Regions from separate parts of the Homo sapiens genome. Here regions 2, 3, 4 and 5 are each reported to be linked to region 1. The links are microRNA targets in miRTarBase. Many come from high-throughput screens and were not tested one by one. Region 1 holds a microRNA gene; each other region holds the end of a gene's coding sequence.
The links. The annotated mature microRNA hsa-miR-4291 reads UUCAGCAGGAACAGCU and lies in region 1 at 2,578-2,593, shown strand. An mRNA with a match to its seed (bases 2 to 7 or 8) in the 3' UTR can be bound and repressed. Matches are read on the target gene's strand: a 7mer-m8 pairs with bases 2 to 8, a 7mer-A1 pairs with bases 2 to 7 and ends in A, and an 8mer does both.

Region 2: miRTarBase lists DISC1 as a target of hsa-miR-4291. Seed matches in the 3' UTR shown: 7mer-A1 at 2,551-2,557.
Region 3: miRTarBase lists PHLPP2 as a target of hsa-miR-4291. Seed matches in the 3' UTR shown: 7mer-m8 at 1,100-1,106 and 7mer-m8 at 3,320-3,326.
Region 4: the mRNA of MIEF2 is a reported target of hsa-miR-4291. Seed matches in the 3' UTR shown: 7mer-m8 at 2,536-2,542.
Region 5: miRTarBase lists MAML1 as a target of hsa-miR-4291. Seed matches in the 3' UTR shown: 7mer-A1 at 1,558-1,564.

The regions. Positions count from the first base shown.
Region 1 is chr9:93,816,790-93,820,383 of GRCh38, forward strand. It overlaps MIR4291 (microRNA 4291), which reads left to right and starts at 2,568; the gene lies at 2,568-2,632. All of the region lies in intron 1 of LOC101928014 (a long non-coding RNA gene), which reads left to right.
Region 2 is chr1:232,036,001-232,039,594 of GRCh38, reverse strand. It overlaps DISC1 (DISC1 scaffold protein), which reads right to left. Exons shown (of 13, transcript NM_018662.3): 13 at 1-2,903. The coding sequence ends at 2,764. It overlaps TSNAX-DISC1 (TSNAX-DISC1 readthrough (NMD candidate)), which reads right to left. Exons shown (of 16, transcript NR_028393.1): 16 at 1-2,903. Among named protein-coding and RNA genes, the nearest start is that of DISC1-IT1, 110 kb to the right of the region's middle. RefSeq lists an enhancer at 1,041-1,587.
Region 3 is chr16:71,645,695-71,649,288 of GRCh38, reverse strand. PHLPP2 (PH domain and leucine rich repeat protein phosphatase 2) reads left to right here. Exons shown (of 19, transcript NM_015020.3): 19 at 1-3,594. The coding sequence ends at 399. Among named protein-coding and RNA genes, the nearest start is that of MARVELD3, 21 kb to the right of the region's middle.
Region 4 is chr17:18,264,090-18,267,683 of GRCh38, reverse strand. It overlaps MIEF2 (mitochondrial elongation factor 2), which reads right to left. Exons shown (of 4, transcript NM_139162.4): 4 at 1,132-3,594. The coding sequence ends at 2,920. Among named protein-coding and RNA genes, the nearest start is that of MIEF2, 5.2 kb to the right of the region's middle. RefSeq lists an enhancer at 1-381.
Region 5 is chr5:179,774,181-179,777,774 of GRCh38, reverse strand. MAML1 (mastermind like transcriptional coactivator 1) reads right to left here. Exons shown (of 5, transcript NM_014757.5): 5 at 492-3,594. The coding sequence ends at 2,898. Among named protein-coding and RNA genes, the nearest start is that of LTC4S, 18 kb to the left of the region's middle.

The sequences.
Region 1 (3,594 bases):
TAATATTCCATTGTATGCATCTGCCACATTTTCCTTATCCAGTCATCTGTTGGTTAACTCTTGGATTGTTTTCAGCTGTTGGCTATTGTGAAGAATGCTGCAATAAACATATGTATGCATTTTTATGTGGATGTTTTCATTTCTCCTGGGCATGCACCTAGAAGTGGATTGAGGTCATACAGTAACTCTTTTTAACATTTTGAGGAATTGTTAAACTGTTTTCCATAGTAGCGGCACCATTTTGTGTTCCCATTAGCAATATATGAGGGTTTCACCTTATCTGCATCCTCACCAATGCTTGTTATCATCTGTCTTTTTGATGTTAGCCATCCTCGTGGGTGTGAAGTGGTATCTCGGTGTGGACTTCATTTGCACAGTGGTATTGAGCATCTTTTCATGTGCTTATTGGCATTTGTATTGCCAATATTTGGAAAAATATTTGAATAAATATTTATTCAGATCCTTTGCCCACTGAAGAAAATTTGCCTTTACTGATGAGTTCTTCTTATATTCTGGACAAAAGACCTTTTTCAGATATATAGCTTGCAAATATTTTTTCCCACTCTGTGAGTTCTCTTTTTACCTTCCTGATGGTGTTCTTTGAGGCACAAAAGTTTTTAATTTTGATGAAGTCCAATATATCTGTTTTTTCTTTTGTTGCTTATGTTTCTGGTGTCATATCTAAGAATGCAAGTATACAAAGATTTACTTCTAGTTTTCTTCTAAGAGCTTTGTAGTTTTATCTCCTACATTTAGGTCTTTGATCCACTTTGAGATAACTTTTGCATATGGTGGGTTTGTATATTGTTCTTTGTAACAAATTTCTTTCTAAAGCTGACTACCTTAAAATGGCACTTTATGAGAAACAGTTGTGGTGTCTGGCTCATGTTGTTTTTATTAGTAACAATACTTGTTGGTTTTGGAAGGTGTCTCATCATAAGGAAATCAATGGCACACCCATCATTTCATTCCCCGCTCACCCAGCCCTATACATGTTAGTGACCCCACTTCATAGGTGGGGACATGGACACTTCTGAGGAGAAGGTAAAATCAAAGGGACAGAATGAGGTGAGCCTGTGTTCTTCCCTTAACCCTCCTGCCCTCCTCCCCAGGAAAAATGAGCTTTGCTATGAAGTGGGGTGACCTCCTTACTCACCAGATTCTTTCTTCCTCAGAAACCCCAATCTACTGACTTCTTTGGGCTGTTTGAGGTGTAGGTAGTGACTCTGGGCTAGATATTCTATGTTCTCTTTTTCCTACATCAACAGACTCATCTGTCAAAAGGAAGGAGGGAGGGAGGGGGAAGGAGTGAAGGGAAGGAGGGAAAGAGGGAAGGAAGGAAGGGAGGGAGGGAGGGAAAGAGGGAAGGAAGGAAGCAAGGAAGGAAGGGAGGAAGGAAGGGAGGGAGGAAAAGAGGGAAGGGAGGGAGGGAAGGAAGAGAAAGAGGGAGGGAAGGAAGGAAGGAAAGTGAAGGGGAAAAAAGGAAGGAAGGGAAAGAAGGAAGAAAGGAAGGAGGGAAGGAAAGGGATGGAAAGAAGGAAGGAAGGAAGGAGGGAAGGAAGGGAAAAAGGGATGAAAGGAAGGAAGGGAGGGAGGGAAGGAAATAGGGAAGGAAGGGAGGGAGGGAAGGAAGGAAGGGAAAGAAGGAAGGAAGGAAGGAAGGGAAGAGGGAAGGAAGAAAAAAGGAAAGAAGGAAGGGAAAGAGGGAGGGAGGAAGGAAATGAAAAGAGGGAAGGAAGAGAAAAGGAAGGAATGAAGGGAAAGAGGGAAGGAAAGAAGGAAAGAGGGAAGGAAGAAGGAAGGAAAAGGGAAAGAAGGGAAAGAGGGAAGAAAGGGAAAGAGGGAAGGAAGGAAGGAAGGAAGGAAGGAAGGAAGGAAGGAAGGAAGGAAGGGATGGAGGGAGGGAGGGGAGGTCATTTCCTAGAGGAAGTAAAAGTGCAGCTCCTCTCTGGTCTCCCCTGAGTAGAACATGAGAACATGACTAAACCAAAAATCAGGTATGTCTCTAGAGAGAGCTCGTACATCCAGGCGGACAAGCCTTCCATTACTAAAAGTGCCAGAGACAAGCCAAGGCCTGCGTGTGTGCACAGGAGACTAGAGGGCCCTCTGAGCCCTGGCTGGAGGGGGGACCAGGTTCAAGCCCATCTTCTGCTCACAGCCTGGGTGATCCTGGCAGCCACGTGCCCTCCTTGCTGGGGCTCAGGTGCCTCATCTGTCAAGTGCCGGTGGCTGGGACAGGACCCCTCAGCCTGATAGGCTAAGACTCTAAGTGCTGCTGGAGTTAAGACGGCAACGCAATCTCCAAGCCTGTCAGGGACCCCTGGTAGCTGGGTGAGTGATGGTCCCGGGGGATTGACCAGCTGTTTGGGTGTCCCATAAACACAGCCTTAAAGTGGCTGGTTCCGCCCATCCATCTTGCCCTTGGGGCCGCGCCCTGGCGGCTTTCAGAGTGGCCCTAGTTGACATCGGTGTTGGCCCCTTCCGGGTGGCGCTGGGCCGTTGATGGGCTCTGTGATGGATGGGTCTCCACTGTGGAGGTGCCACAGCTCAGGACGCCCTGAGGGTGACGCCGGGGGCTTCAGCAGGAACAGCTGGGTGGAGGCAGAGCTGTTCTGCTGTGGCTGCAGCCCTGAACTGTGGGATTCAGAGCTGAGAGTGAGGTAATGAAGCCAAGTGCTTCCAGGGTCTACAGATGGAGGTGACCCAGACACACTGTACAATAGACTCTCTGGAGTTTCCTTAGTTCCACAGAAACCTGCTCCCTCCCCTATGGCTGTAGCCTTTTTGTGTCTCTCCTGGTTTCAGATAGAACACCAGCCCCACCAAGCACAGGGCTTCCCTTGGGGCAGTAGAAAGTGGCAATACTATGGCCAGCCAGGCCACTCAGGGGTCTGAATTCAGAACGGCTGTTTTTTCTGATTTCTCCAGGGACCCCTGTACAAACCAAAGTTATCTCTCTGCAACCTCCAGGTCTGACCACGGATAACTGGCTGATTCCTCCTTCTGGCATTCAGGGTTGTACCCCTGTGTTCTGAACTGAGGGCTGGAGAGAGAAATAATGAACTCACCAAGCTCTACTGACTGCCTGCTGCTGGCCGCACATCACAGCCCTTGGATAGCACCATGGCCTGACTTTATGTAGAGCCGCTGACATCCCTAAGGCACTCAGGGCAAGACTGAAACATGCTGAGGCCATGCCCCATGGTGTTAGAAGGGATGATGTGAGCAGCCTGTCTTCTGCTCATTCCTGCAACACGCCTTAGGGTCTCTCAGGGGCATTGTTCATGATGGGAAGCTCGGAGGGCCTGGCCACAGACAGAGGTGACCCACAGTCACTGAGTTGGAGGGGTGGCCCCCAAGCTGGTGGGGAGAGGTAGAGAACTGGTGGAGATGGCTAAGATGATTCCTCATTTCCCCCGAATGGCCCTAGTTTTACTGCCCTTCCCACTACCTGCTTTCTCCAAACACACGCTCCCTCTCTGACCTGGCTGTCCCCCACCATTCTCACTAGAAATGTAGACTCTGGGAGAAAGGAAGGGCCCTTGGATCCCAGGAAGTTCCTTTACAGCTTCCCTAGATGTTGGGCATCTGCTG
Region 2 (3,594 bases), not on the chromosome of region 1:
AAGAAGCACGCTGGCCCTTAGCGGACTTTCTGAATGATACTCTAAGACCAAGCAAAGACAACAGATGAGTTATGGCTTGTGGTTAAAACATGACTCACCTGCCCAAATACTTCAAAATTTGCAGCAGGGAAATGAACACACTATCTACTAGAGGTACCAAAGAACCCTTATTTCGGGTTCAAACAATTCAAGGCAGTTATTAACTTGCAGAATTTTCAAATACATCATGACCTCACAGAATTATTTCATGATGGTGTCTGAGTAATACAAAACACTTGGGCTAGTGACGGTTAAGATGTCTTGTGTCTGGGAGGCTTTTTGAAAAGACATATGTCGAAGTAGGAATTTGTTATTGGCAATGTGGCCAATCCTGACTCTTCCCAAGTTTTGCTTCACTGGAATTAACTCAAGGATTCCAAGTGCCATGTGACCAGTTCATAATTTTCTTTAGACACAATTATAAATAATTCAGGAATTTGGTTCATCATTGAAAATGAAGTCCAGGAACAAGCTAATTATACTTATTATTAAAATATGTAGAGTGTATTTTGCTCGAGATAAAGCCATAGGGAACACAATCAGCACATTCACATATTGTGCTTTTGCTTTGTTTCCTGGACCCCAGCCAATTGCTGGCTTAAGCATGGCCATCTCCTTGACTGAGGACAGAAGTGCTGCACAGCATGGAAGGCTGAGCAAAGCACCAGATGCCTTCTGGAAACGCCAGTGTGACTTCAGGAAATGACAAAAATGGTCTCATATCCGTGGATCCTAGTGAAGGCAGGAACCTCACTATCCCTAAACACATAAATGAGAACAGAAGCACAAACAGAACAACCACTGGATTAAATTTACCAATCTGTGGCAGGTAGTTATTAAGCTCAACACTCTGCAAAAGTGTGAGTGTGGTTTCTAAAGTGATGTAAATCAGAGTTTGGACTGGGACTTCCTCAGAGAATGCAGTGCTGTACAATACTAGATCTATGGGATATGAATAGGAGTTACATGAAAAAAATTCACGATCCATTAAACTTGGAAAGTTTGAGGTTAGATAAAATCAAGTGAGTTTCCTTACTATAAGTTCTCTCTCAGACTAATATGCTAATGTGCATTGTGGTTCTCCAAGCAGATATTATGGTATGGTGTATTTACCAAAGGTACTTGACCAGAGAGGGTACTCCTTTGTTTAGAGAGCTTCTCTTGGGGCCACCTTCCTCAGTGCACTTTGGGAAGTGCTGCCTAATTGAAATCAGCCTGTTTTGCAGCTGTCTCAATAGGAGTCCCAGCTGGGCCAAAGAAGCAGCCCAGCAGGAGCCTGAAATGCCCTTGCATTACTGAGTACTGCACTGATTTACTGAGTACTACATTGCCTATATAAGTACTCAGTACTTATAGTACTGAGTACTAGCTGCCCTGTGTTACTGAGTACTATGCTGTCCTACTGAGCACTACACTGTGTTACTAAGCAATTCACTGCCTTACTGAGCACTGCACTGCCTTATTGAGCACTGCACTGTGTTACTGAGCATTGCATTGCTTTACTGAGTACCATACTGCCTTACTGAGTACTGTACTGTATTACTGAGTACTGCACTGTGTTACTGAGTACTGCACTGCCTTACTGAGTACTGCACTGTTACTGAGTACTGCACTGTTACTGAGTACTGCACTGTGTTACTGAGTACCGCACTGAGTATTGCACTGCCTGAGTACTGTGCTGCATTCCTGAGTACTGCACTGCCTAACTGAGTACTGTATTGTATTACTGAGTACTTCACTGCCTTACTGAATACTGTACTGTATTACTGAGTACTTCACTGTTACTGAGTACTACACTGTTACTGAGTATTGCACTGCCTTACTGAGCACTGCACTGTCTTACTGAGTACTGCACTGCCTGAGTACTGTATTGTGTTACTGAGTACTGCACTGCCTTACTGAGTACTGCACTGCTTTCCTAAATGCTGCACTGCCTGGCATTGAGTGAAACAGGTTCCACGGGAAAATGGAACAGGCTCAAACATTTTATACAGGTCCCCTGATCCATCCACAGCCTCACTGTGGGTAAATTTCAGAATGTCCTGATGAAACAGAGACTCTCAGGGATCCTTTCTTCAGATGCAATCATTGCCACAAAAGGAAAATTGAAAGGTGGCATATCACTGGGAGGTTGTTGTCTTACCAAAATATCTTTTGGAAATTGCATATTAATTTTTCTAAGATAATATTAGATCACAGGAGAAGTAAGGTGAAAAGCTGTTAACTCCAGACTCTGAGGTTAATTAGCTCTCTTAGATTGTGCACCTGTAGGAACGTGTAACAGGTATGATGACAGAGTCTTATGCTTGGTTTCCTTTTTATAGAATCTTGAATCAGGAAATATTTTCGTTGCAGCAGAAGGCAAATGGCACAGGAAAAAGAGACATTTTTCCAGAATTCACCCCAACTTCTCTCTAATGGGGGCTGAGATGAAACTATTCTCAAATCCTGTGGAAGACATTCCCAAGAATGACATGGAAAAGAAATTTTTGAGTGACATTTAGAAGGAAATTCAGCAAATCAGTCTCTCTCTCCATATTCCAAATTGCAGACTCCTCAGTTTCACACTGATGAGAATGAACATGAACCACCTTTCCACTGAAAGACCTCAAGGCTCTGTATCTCCGTAATTGATTCAGGCATCTTAGCTATGGCGGGGGAGGGAAGAGCAGCCCCCCGGGTCCAAACATGGTGGCCCACCTCCCTCCCCCATCCCGTCACTCCTCAGGCTTGTGCTTCGTGGACACCAGCTGTCATGCAGGAAGCTGCAGCTTCTCTTTCTCCCGCCTCCTTTGCTGGCTGGAGCTGCAGGATCATGGCCTGCAGAGTTTCCTTCACCATCTGGAGCTCCCTCCTGAGAGACTGTGGGCACATTGTTAAGGAGCACATTCGAAGGTGATCGTGGCCCTCTGCGGCCTCCGAGGGATCGAAGAGCGTGTGAGCCTGCTGGAAGCAGATGGGTACTGACACCTAATTGCAGTTTAAAGTTCTTTCCAATTGTATGAATTAAATATTAATATAAACTTTACACTTTTATATTTTAGAATGACCGCAATTTCTACAATGCCTGAGGTATTGACTCTCTCAAGTCAGGTCTTAAAAAGGAAATGGAAGAGTCAGCTCTTAGCAGAGACAGATGGTCAACTCAGATGCTCAATGATATGCAGTTGGCGTGACCATAACTCCGGCTAAGCCCCAAGTTGGGGTGGGGCAACTGTCAGATGCAAATACTCTTGACAGTGGAAAGGGTAGAATGCTTGAAATCAAAATCTCCTTGAGAAATACAGGATTTGGGGTTGCCATAAGTAGGGAGAGGCATACTGGAGCAGACTCAGTTATTAACATGGTCTCTGTTCACCATTAACCAGCCTTGTCACCCTATGCAAACCAGTTAAAGCCTCAGTTTTCTCTTGAAATGATGACTTTGAAACCTCTCCAGGCTCTAACCTGCTGTTATCTGTTAGTATATTCCCAGGAACTAGGAAGGGCACTCAAGACTTGATAGAGTCCATCAAAGGGCAAAGAGAGCTTGCTTTTTCTGGGTTGGTTGGTTGG
Region 3 (3,594 bases), not on the chromosome of region 1:
CTGTGTTCTGAGGAACATGCTAGAGGGTCGTGTTTTGGGATCCGAAGACAGAACAGTGTGAATAGTGGCATGCTCCTGCCAATGAGCAAGGACAGGATGGAGTTACAGAAGTCTCCCTCCACCTCCTGCCTCTATGGGAAGAAACTCTCCAATGGCTCTATTGTGCCCCTAGAGGACAGCCTGAACCTCATTGAAGTGGCCACAGAAGTGCCCAAGAGGAAAACTGGCTATTTTGCTGCCCCCACTCAGATGGAACCAGAGGACCAGTTTGTTGTGCCTCATGACCTGGAAGAAGAAGTGAAGGAACAAATGAAACAGCACCAGGACAGCCGGCTCGAGCCTGAGCCCCATGAAGAGGATCGGACCGAGCCCCCGGAGGAGTTCGACACAGCACTATGACTGCCCCACTGGGCACAGTGTGGGAGGAGGCTGTGCAGGGTTGGGGTAGGGACTTGCTAGAGGCATTCTGCCTCTACATTTCTTTTTGTTTGTTCGTTTTTTTTTTGTTTGTTTGTTTTGAGACGGAGTCTTGCTCAGTCGCTCAGGCTGGAGTGCAATGGTGGGGTCTCGGGTCACTGCAGCCTCTGTCCCTGGGTTCAAGCCATTCTCCTGTCTCAGCCTCCCGAGTAGCTGGGATTACAGGCACCTGCCATTATGCCCGGCTAAGTTTTATTTTTTTTTTTTAGAGACGGGGTTTCACCATGTTGGCCAGGCTGGTGTTGAACTCTTGACCTCAGGTGATCCACCCTCCTCTGCCTCCCAAAGTGCTGTGATTACAGGCCTCAGCCACCATGCCCAGCCCTGCGTCTACATTTCTAAACCATAGCTGTGTGGGGTTGAACTCGGAGCCAAAAAGTGTGAGAGCCATCAGGGGCTGGCTCTGGATAAACTGGTAGCCACTATCAGTGTTAAGTTTCACATTTAACCTGCATTGGAATTCCCAGGGGTACTGGGAAGAAAGCAGCTGTTCTGTATCAGTCCTACCACCTGCCATTAACCCTTTCTCTCCTAGGATCATTTTGAGAATTTGCCTGCCTGGGCAGGAAAGGGACTATTTCTGTGGAGGAAAAAAGTGAAGATTGATTCTCTTTACTAGTTGCTGCTGATGGATCTCTGTGACAGAGAAATCACCTTATCTCAGACTAATGGGGTGTGATGTGACTAGTCACATGGCTTTTCATTCTTCTCTACGAGAATACAGCCTATCAAAATGATGTCTGTTGGAAATGTAGAACCAATCAAACAGATAATTTATGTATGTAATGTAATGAGAGCACTTTTCATTGACTGTGAACTTTTTATTTTTGAATCTGCACTCGAGCCAATCTTCTTAGAGGCAGCCCGGCACCTTCATCCATAGGCAGAGAGAGAACTGGGTGTTGGAGACTTATTCGAGGGTATAGGAAGGGCCCTGTGAAGTTGATTTAACTTTTGGATGTCAGACTGTGAAAGCTCCTGAGAAACTTGGGGTAATAGGATCTTCTTTTGGGGATGAAAATGGGGAAGGCGTGAGGACCTAGACTACTTCTCCCTAGATCAGAAAAAGAGAATTACCCCTTGACAAATATGATACCTGCTAGGTATTTCCCAGGGAAATTTAGGGATTGGCGTCTTTCCCTAGCATGTGGAGGAATTGGCAGACAGCTTCCTAAGGGCGGGGAGCGGGGGCCCAAGGCTGACACTGCTTGCATCCACGTGACCTTAAGTTATGGCAGATGACTCTGAAACGGACTGAGGCCAATGAGAACAGATGGATGGAGCACTCAGGTTAGACTTGTTCCTTCTCCTATGCTGGAGGAGAGGGATGGTTCTCTAGAATGTTGGAGGTGAGTTGAGAGCTCGCCTCTTGAATGTTGAACAGTGTACTCTTCTGAAAACTGCATATTCACTTTATGTGGTTTCAGAATACTGGGCTCAATACTAACATAAGAAAGACACTTCATTGAGAAATTCTTAAGCTTACAGAAAACCTATACTCTTTGCACATTCCACATAACCCTAGCAAAATGCAGTTTCTTCATACTTCTGTCACTTTTTCCATTGGAAGATTTGCTTAGGAAAATTAATTCCTATTTATTCCCACAAAATGTTGGCATTGCTTGATTTTACCCAATGGGGAATGTGCTTTGAATTTTTGGAACACTTTTACAATTAAAAATAAAGTAGGGCCATTTTTAATTTGTTTCATCAGAAACTATGTTAAAGAGAGGGTTAAATATAAATATATTTTCGTGTGTATTTTTGGGAAGATTTTTGTTCAAAGCAATAGTCAAAATCAGATGACCTGTCCATAATAATTATGTGTCTTCATCTTCTCAGAGGCCCCATGCTCATATGCACGTGTCATTGGGATACACTCTTGGGGGATTTGGTACACTCTAATGGATGTCTAATGTTCAACCCCTCGAGAATCTGAACTTGAGTCCCCAGATTGTCAAACTACTGGTCAGCTATTGAGAATTTTAGAACTCAGGTCTTTGATTTGAAGTAGGGAACATAGTGGCTCACACAGAGTTTAGGTGCTGTTAGAAAGATGGGAACAAGAGTGTTTTGCCACCTTATTTTTATATGGGAAATTTTTTTTAATGAAGAAAAAATGAAAATGAAATAACAGGATGATAGTGATGAGTGATGTAAAACATCTTACTTAGATGGCAGAACCTTCGGGTTGTAGAATAGTGATGTCTAAAAATTAAAGTTATTTTGGGAATACACCACTTTAATAGTATAGTCTTATAAAAATTATTCATTATGGTGAACCCTTCTTGTCTGCTATTCGTTTCCCAACCTACTTATTGGAACCACCTCAAAACCCAGTTCTGAAATGACCTTACCAAAAGTAAATGTATTTATTTTTTAGTCAGCAGAACTCTGTAATTCCAAATGTTGTTCTGTGTGGTAGAATTTTTTTTCAGGAACCATTAGGTTGTATTGAAAATCTTTGTTATAGGCGATACCAAAACTGATTATTCTTTTTTGCAGTCTGCTTTAATTCATGTCCTTCTGCAGTTGCTCTGTATTAAAACAGGGTAAAAAGGCCATAGCCCATTATGAAAAATATAATACAAAACTCTTTGACCTATGAGGTAACTTACAGACATTGTGTTTTCTAAACAGGCTGTCAGTGAAAGCCCGTATCTGTCTCCAGGTGAATGTAATTTACTTCCGAGTACTTTACCCAGAGGATGTGTTCCCCAGGTGGGCAGAGTACAGTTGATCTCTAGCACAGACAGAGATTCTGGCCTCTGCATATTCTCAGGTCTCTGTGTGTACCTCCCATTGAGTAGAGAAGCTTAAGATAATTTCTGAGAGAAGAACACTGCTGATTGTGGGAGCAGTTTAGGAGTCCATGGAAGAAAGAAAAATACATGTGTCTTGGCAGCCATGGTGTATTTTTGTCCAAATGGATTGGAAGGATATTTGAATATTTGAATGTTGGTATGACATAAAGCTGCAGTGCACTATAGAGTCAAGTCATTGAATTACCACTCCTGATACAGGGCTTTATTGTACTACTGTGAAGTGTATGTGTGCAATACATTGGTGAGTTCATTTACTGGTGTACGGAAGAGCCAGCAGGAGCAGCGTGGTCAT
Region 4 (3,594 bases), not on the chromosome of region 1:
TTGGGTCCTGCAGTCACAGCTGGAAGGGGTAGGGGAGTCCCCTCAGGACGTAAGTCGGGGAAGGACCAGCAGGGTGCGAGTGGCACAGCTAGGCTGGAAGCAGCCCTGCACGCAGACCAGAGCCCTCCCCAGCCCACATGTGTCATCTGGTGATAGGAAGTGAGCCCTGGCTTTGGCTCTTGCGGGTGAGAGGGTTAAGATGCCCTGGCCTCTCACCTGCACAAGGCGGGGCAAGTTTCCTCCCCACTTGTGCAGCCACAAAGAGGTGCAAGGGAGGTAGAGAACACACATTTCTGGCCGGGTGCGGTGGCCCATGCCTGTAATCCCAGCACTTTGGGAGGCCAAGGCAGGCAGATCACAAGGTCAAGAGATCAAGACCATCCTGGCCAACATGGTGAAAATCCATCTCTACTAAAAATACAAAAATTAGCCGAGCGTGGTAGCGCGCACTTGTAGTCCCAGCTACTCGGGAGGCTGAGGCAGAAGAATTGCTTTAACCCGGGAGGCAGAGGTTGCAGTGAGCCGAGATCGCACCACTGCACTCCAGCCTGGGCGACAGAGTGATACTCACTCTCAAAAGAAAAAAAACACAGGTTTCTAAAAAATGATGAGCATGGCTGAAGGGCTGTCAACAGCCCACTAATTACAGAAAGTATGGTGCAGGGCTCAGCAGTTCAGCCTTGCGGGAAGAAACATCCCAAACTGGCTGGTTCCCATTACTAAAGCAACACCAAGCTTTTCATCTTTTCCTTCCACTTACCTTACTTGTCACGGACAGAAAGTCTGTGTCCCCTTCAACTTGTATGCTGAAATCCTAACCCCCAAGGCACTGCTAACAGGAGATGGGGTCTTTGGGAAGTGATTCGATCATGAATGTGGGCCCCCACCCCATGGGTGGGCTTAGTTTCCTTATAAGAGACCCTAGGAGAGCATTTCCCCCCTTCCTCCACATGAGGACAGCTAGATGGGGACACCTATGAACCAGGATGTGGGCTCTCAACCAAACATGGAATCTGTGACTCACTCTTGGATTTCTAGCCTCCAAAATGGTAAGACATAAATTTCTGATGTTTATAAGCCACCTAGTCTATGGCATTTTGTTATCACAGCCCAAACAGACTGAGATGCTAATTTATTATTACTATTATTATTTTATTTTATTTTATTTTGAGACAGAGTTTCACTCTTGTTGCCTAGGCTGGAGTGCACTGGCACGATCTCAGCTCACCACAACCTCCGCCTCCCGGGTTCAAGCAATTCTCCTGCCTCAGCCTCCCAAGTAGCTGGGATTACAGGCATGTGCCACCATGCCCAGCTAATTTTTTTGAATTTTTACCAGAGATGGAGTTTCTCCACGTTGGTCAGCCTGGTCTTGAATTCCCAACCTCAGGTGATCTACCGGCCTCGGCTTCCCAAAGTGCTGGGATTATAGGCGTGAGCCACAGCGCGGGGCCAAGATGCTTATTTATTTATTTTTTTGAGACAGAGTCTTGCTCTGTCGCCAGTCTGGAGTGCAGTGGTGCAATTTCAGCTCATTGCAACCTCTACCTCCCGGGTTCAAGCAATTCTCCTGCCTCGGCCTCCCGAGTAGCTGGGACTATAGGTGCGTGCCACCACGCCCAGCTAATTTTTGTCTTTTTAGTAGAGTTGGGGTTTCATCATGTTGGTCAGGATGGTCTCGATCTCTTGACCTCGTGATCCGCCCGCCTCGGCCTCCCGATGTGCTGGGATTACAGATGCGAGCCACCACACCCGGCCAAGATGCTACTTTTTAAAGTAAACTCTACCACCTCCAATTGACCTCAAGCACTCTTGCCAAAGTGCCAGGACAAGCCACAGGACTTACAGAAAACCCTCAACAGCTGCGTATGAAAGCACCAAGACTCCCTTATCCAGCCTGAGTTATATATACATTAGAATTTTTTCCTTTTATTCTTGTTCACATCTTCGAAGCTGAGCTTCGTTTCAAAAGGAAGGATACCAGAGGCAGGAGGAGGGTCACTTGGGAGGGGAGGTGGAATCTCCCTCCTCTAGCCCCCTTGCTACCTCTTAACAGGCTTCAAAGTCAGAATACAGCCATCAGCTGAGAGCAGTTCATTTTGGCACACTGGGAGGCCGGCTGTGCACACCGGACCTCTCTAGTGGGGGATCAGGTCCTCTGCTCTCCAGTGGGGCCTGGAACAGCTCCAGTGAGATGCCCCAGCTGTGGGCTGGGGGTGCAGCACAGAGCCTCAGCTCCCCCAGGACCCTCAGCTGCCTGAAGAAAACACTCACCTGGCTGGAGGGAAAAAGGGCCTTGCCCTGAGGTATCAGGTGGGTGGCAAGTCATACTGAGCTCCCGCTCAGCAAGAAAACTAAACGCACAGAAGACAGCAGGAAAATGCCATCCTTTAACAGCCAAAAATCTGTCCTTCAGGGGCACCAGGTGACTCCAGCCCCTGGGGGACAGAACAAACACACCATACCTACCATCAGGCACCAGACGCCTCAAAACGCCTGGAGCTAGGGCCGGAAAAGGCGTTAAGTCACCTTCTCTCAGCAGAAATGTGAAGCTGGCCTTCAGCTTCTGCCCAGGATGGCAGAAACCACATTCTGTTGGTGGATTGGTTGCTGGTGATGGACAGAGCCAAAGGTCCTGGGGTTGGCCCCAAGAGCTGAAACGGTGCTTGCAGGAATGGCTGGCACTCCAAGCTGCCTGAGGCAGCCCAGCTGCACTCAGGTGACAGTGACCCAAGCTCTCTGGGCTCAGGGTTTATGGCCACCATAGCCCAAGCACATCCTGATGCCCTGGGTTTAAGTAATGTACCCTCCTTTGTTCTGGCAAAAAGCTAGAGAAAAACCACTATTCAAATCCCTGGAAGGGAGGTGGGTGCAGCTCCCCAGCATTAGAAAACATGGCAACCACCCGTTTCCACCCACCTAGAGCAGCCCCTCGGGCTCCTGTAGGCCACTGTATAGCGCATAGCCAATGTCGTCAATCTCCTCCTCACGCAAGCTGCTGAAGAGGTTCACGCTGGGGTTGAAGTGGCAGGGCAGGCTGGCCTGCTCCAGGCTGCCGATGAGCAGCTCCAGGGCTTGCAGGAAGCGCTCACCCAAGGCCTCCTCCGTCCAATCCACGTTGTCCTCCCCCAGACGCAGGACCACCTGGGTCAGGTGACCCCGGCCTAGCTGCCCCAGAGCCGAGCAACCACGGCAGACAGCACACAGCAGCAGCAGCAGCCGCCGGCGAGTCCCAGCGTCATGGTCGTCCAGGGCTCGCAGCCTAGCAGCCTCCACTGGATACAGGTCCTGCAGCCAGAGGTTCCCCGCCAGCCCCTCCAGGGGCCAGGCCAAGAGGAGGCGGTCGTCAGCATCGACCCCAGGGACTGCCACAAGCACAGCCACAGTGAGCTCCAGGCGTTCGTGCTGCACCTCGAGCAGCAGCTCCTCCGAGGCCATGCTGGGCCGGATCAGGCACCCGAGAAGGCTGCCAATGGCCGGCCAGTTGACAGAAGCAGCCAGCGCCTTGCGGAGTAGCTCCAGCAGGACGCGGGAGGAGAGGTAGCCCCCGACCAGGAAGCGGTCCCAGGGGCTGCTCCCACGGGGGCAGAACTC
Region 5 (3,594 bases), not on the chromosome of region 1:
GAAAAGCAACTAAATAGTACATGGAGCAGACAGACTTCAGGGGCAAACCTAAGGGTTCTACATGAAGCACGAGAAGCACAGTCGTCCGGCCCAGCTCCCTCCATCAGCCGCATGGATGCCCGTGAGTCCCGGAGACAGGCTGCTTTCTCAGGGTGATGCTAGAGCTAAGAGAGCACAGTCGTCCGGTCCAGCTCCCCTCCATCAGCTGCATGGACGCCCGTGAGTCCTGGGGCCAGCCTGCTTTCTCAGGGTGATGCTAGCTCTAATTTAGTATCTATCAGCAGATAACAGAAGCTCCTCTGAGGCTTCAACCAAACCAGCTCCCACCCAACAATGTGCAATAAGAAAGCAGCTAAATCTATGACTCGACAAGCATTTCTTTAAAAAGAAAAAATTAAAAAACCAAGAAAAGCAAGCAGCTAAATTACAAAAGAAAACCAATCCCCAAACTTCTGCCAGCAGACCCCAGGTGACGTCAAATACAAAGGTTGTTTCCATACTAGCAAAATACTTTATTTTTATAATGATAAAACAAGGAAAGTAAAGATTTCTTTTTGGTGTATACCAGAGTTAAGGGCAGTAGAAGAATATGGGGATTAATAGGACTTTTATGAACTTTTGATGACAATAAAAAGTTAACAATACCAACCGTTTGCCATAAAACTTATCATAGCTCCCCCAAAACACACATATAAAGGATCATAGTTTTAAAATCTATAAAAGTAAAAAATATACAGTTGGAAGCTCTAGCGCTTATTCCATCTTTCATATAAAATTGTAAACATTTATTTACACAAAGCAAATGTGTATAACAAAAGTCTGAGCACCCTTTTCTTCTGAGTTGTGGCTCCTGGAAGACGGGGCTGTGCACAGAAGCAAAGTCATCTCCTCCCCTGACTCCCGAAAACCAGGTTCATAAATAAAGCCATGGGCAGCTCCCTGGGGGGACCCCAAGAATCACATTTTATTGCTATGACACTGCAGCAAGTGAGGAGCCCCCACTGTGTCGCCGGCCCCAGGACTAAGGCGGAGTGCAGGGCCAGCGAGCCCCGGGGACAGGGGTGGGAGACGGGGCAGCAGCCAGATGGGGTCAGGAGAGGAACAAGGATCCACAACCAGCCTTCAGCCGATTTTTGGGAGAAAAGCCGCTGAGGTCACCCTCTTCCCCTTCAGATTGGGGAACTCCCTCAGAGGGTGAAATTTTCACTGGCTTTATGATTCACCCCTTCTTTGAGAGCTAAACTGAGTACATGGGAAAGGTAGGGAAGGTGTTTTAAGGAGAAATGGCCGACATACCACTTGGGGTGGCAAATGGCTATTAGAAAAGAAGATCTGAGGGTCCAAGTACCCCCAGTGAGAAAGGCACTGCTGGTGCAAAATAACTACCAATGTGTGTACAACCTCTCGTCCCCTCACCGCGACTCAGGCTGGTTGCATGAGTATTTTCCTTGGCTCAATTCTCACATAGGACACTCCTGAATGATCCATTGGGAGACTCCAGGGAAACAGAAGTGGGGCTGCAGTTTCTCCACAGAACACTCTGCATCTGAGCCACTTTTCAGCATTCTCTTTTCTCTCCACCATTCTGTGTAAAAGGGTCTCACCCTGTGCTTACCACTTTGCTTTCGTTACGGGGAAGTGCTCTCTCCATCTTCGTTTTCCAAAAACAGCTCACATGTCATATTCTATTTCGTGGACCCTCAGCTTAGTCAAGTCCACTTGAATCTTTAGAAAGGATGTCTTAGTGTTATAAAGCAATCTCTTTAAGAAGTGCAAGTCATCTGACATGGGAGTGGCAGAAGTTGTCAAACCAAGTGGAATTGCTTCCTCCGGGCCGGCCTACGGCCTCCTTCCCCAAAACCTTTATGCTAAGGTTCCCTTAGGAATTCTAAGACTCTTCCTTTCCCTCCAATGGAGTAAATAATTGTTTTCCATTTGGGCTGCAGAGAGGAAGGAGAGGCAGACAGAAAGGCCAACGGTAAAGGAAAGACATCTGTGCACAACTGCACAGTGACCACGCTCCCACCATGGGCAACATACATGTTCAGAGAAAACTGCAGAAGGTGGGGAGACATAATACTCCAGGATACAGGACCCCCACATCTCTACCTTCCATATGTAGCCTGGGGTCCTGCTGCCAGGACATGGGAGGAAGGGATTCCTGGGGGCCTTGGGAGGGAGGAGGAGGAGCTGCTAGGAAGACCCTAGCTGTGTCACCAGACCTGCTATCCCATGCCTCCTGTCCCTTTTTGGCATACGCAGTCAACAGCCTGCACTTAGGGAAATAATTTTCCAGTGGCCTCCTTCTCCCCTGAAAGCTGACAAAGAGCAGAAACAAAAAAGGCTCTTAATCAAAAGGAAACCCTAGGTTTCCAATGCCACTTAATTGATTTAAACCATCACCTACCCTAATCTGTTTAAAAACCTTTTGTAAAAAAATTTAAAAATCTTTTCTATGCTACAAATTGCAAATAATTCTGCTATCTAAAGTTTCAACAGAAACTTGTCCCCAGCACTGGGGTAAGTGGAGCAGTCTTGGATAAAATCACCATGATGGCACAGATTTTTATAAGCCCGACAGTGTGGGGTTTCACTGGTGTTACTGTTGGTTTTTTGGTCGTTTGGATAGAAAACCACCTTTAGAACCCTATCCTGCTGTCCCAACACCAGGTACTGATGCCAGCAGATGGGCTGGGGCCAGCCCGATGGACCTCAACTGCTGGCCTGAGGGGCGCAGCCACAGACCCTGCCCAGGGCCAGGCCTCACCTGGAGCTTGGGCTCTACCTGCCCAGCTCCCCAGGCCATGGGCTTTTGGTCCAAAGTAGTTGCTCTTTCTTTGAATCTGAGAATAAAAATATAGGATGAATGAACACTAAAAACACTACAAATCCTTCCATTACTGAGACCCTAACAGGTCGTCCAAATCACTCATCCACTCCTCTGAAGTCCTGTTCTTCAGCAGGGAGTCGATCAGATCGGTGTGTCCAGCCACACTAGAGAGCCCACTGCCACCTGGCTGCCCGCTATAGGCAAAAGGCAGCTCCTGGCCCGCGGTCCGCACAGGGTAGGCCTGGGTGCAGTGCAGCCCCGCCCGACCGCCCATCTGTGAGGCAGGGCTCTGGCTGAAGGCCCCCAGCTCAGGCCCTGCTGGGCTCAGGCCAGGCAAGCCCTGCTGAGGGGCTGTTGGGGGTGGTGCTGGGGCAGGGGCGCTGGTCCTCTGCTGTGCACTCACTGGGGGTAGCAAGGACCCCACGGCAGCTGCTGAGCTCATGGGAGCCATGGGCCTGTTGGGCACTGCCTGGGAGAATTGCGGGCTAGACATTTTCAGGTGGGCCTGCTGCTGCATGTGGAAACTGGAGGCTGCAGTGAAGGGACTCACGTTGCTGTTCCCTGGGGTCTGGCCACTGAGGTTCGGCATTCCCTGATGCTGCCAGGAGGAATTCTGGCCTCCCATGGCTGGTGACACCCTTGGGACCGGTGGCTTTGTTAAACCAGGGTTCAGGGTCCCCTTATTGTGCTGCTGGGAGAGGCCAGAGCTTCCCAGAGAGTTCTGCCCATAGGCAGCTGAGACGGAGGTGTTCTGGCCCACGTTG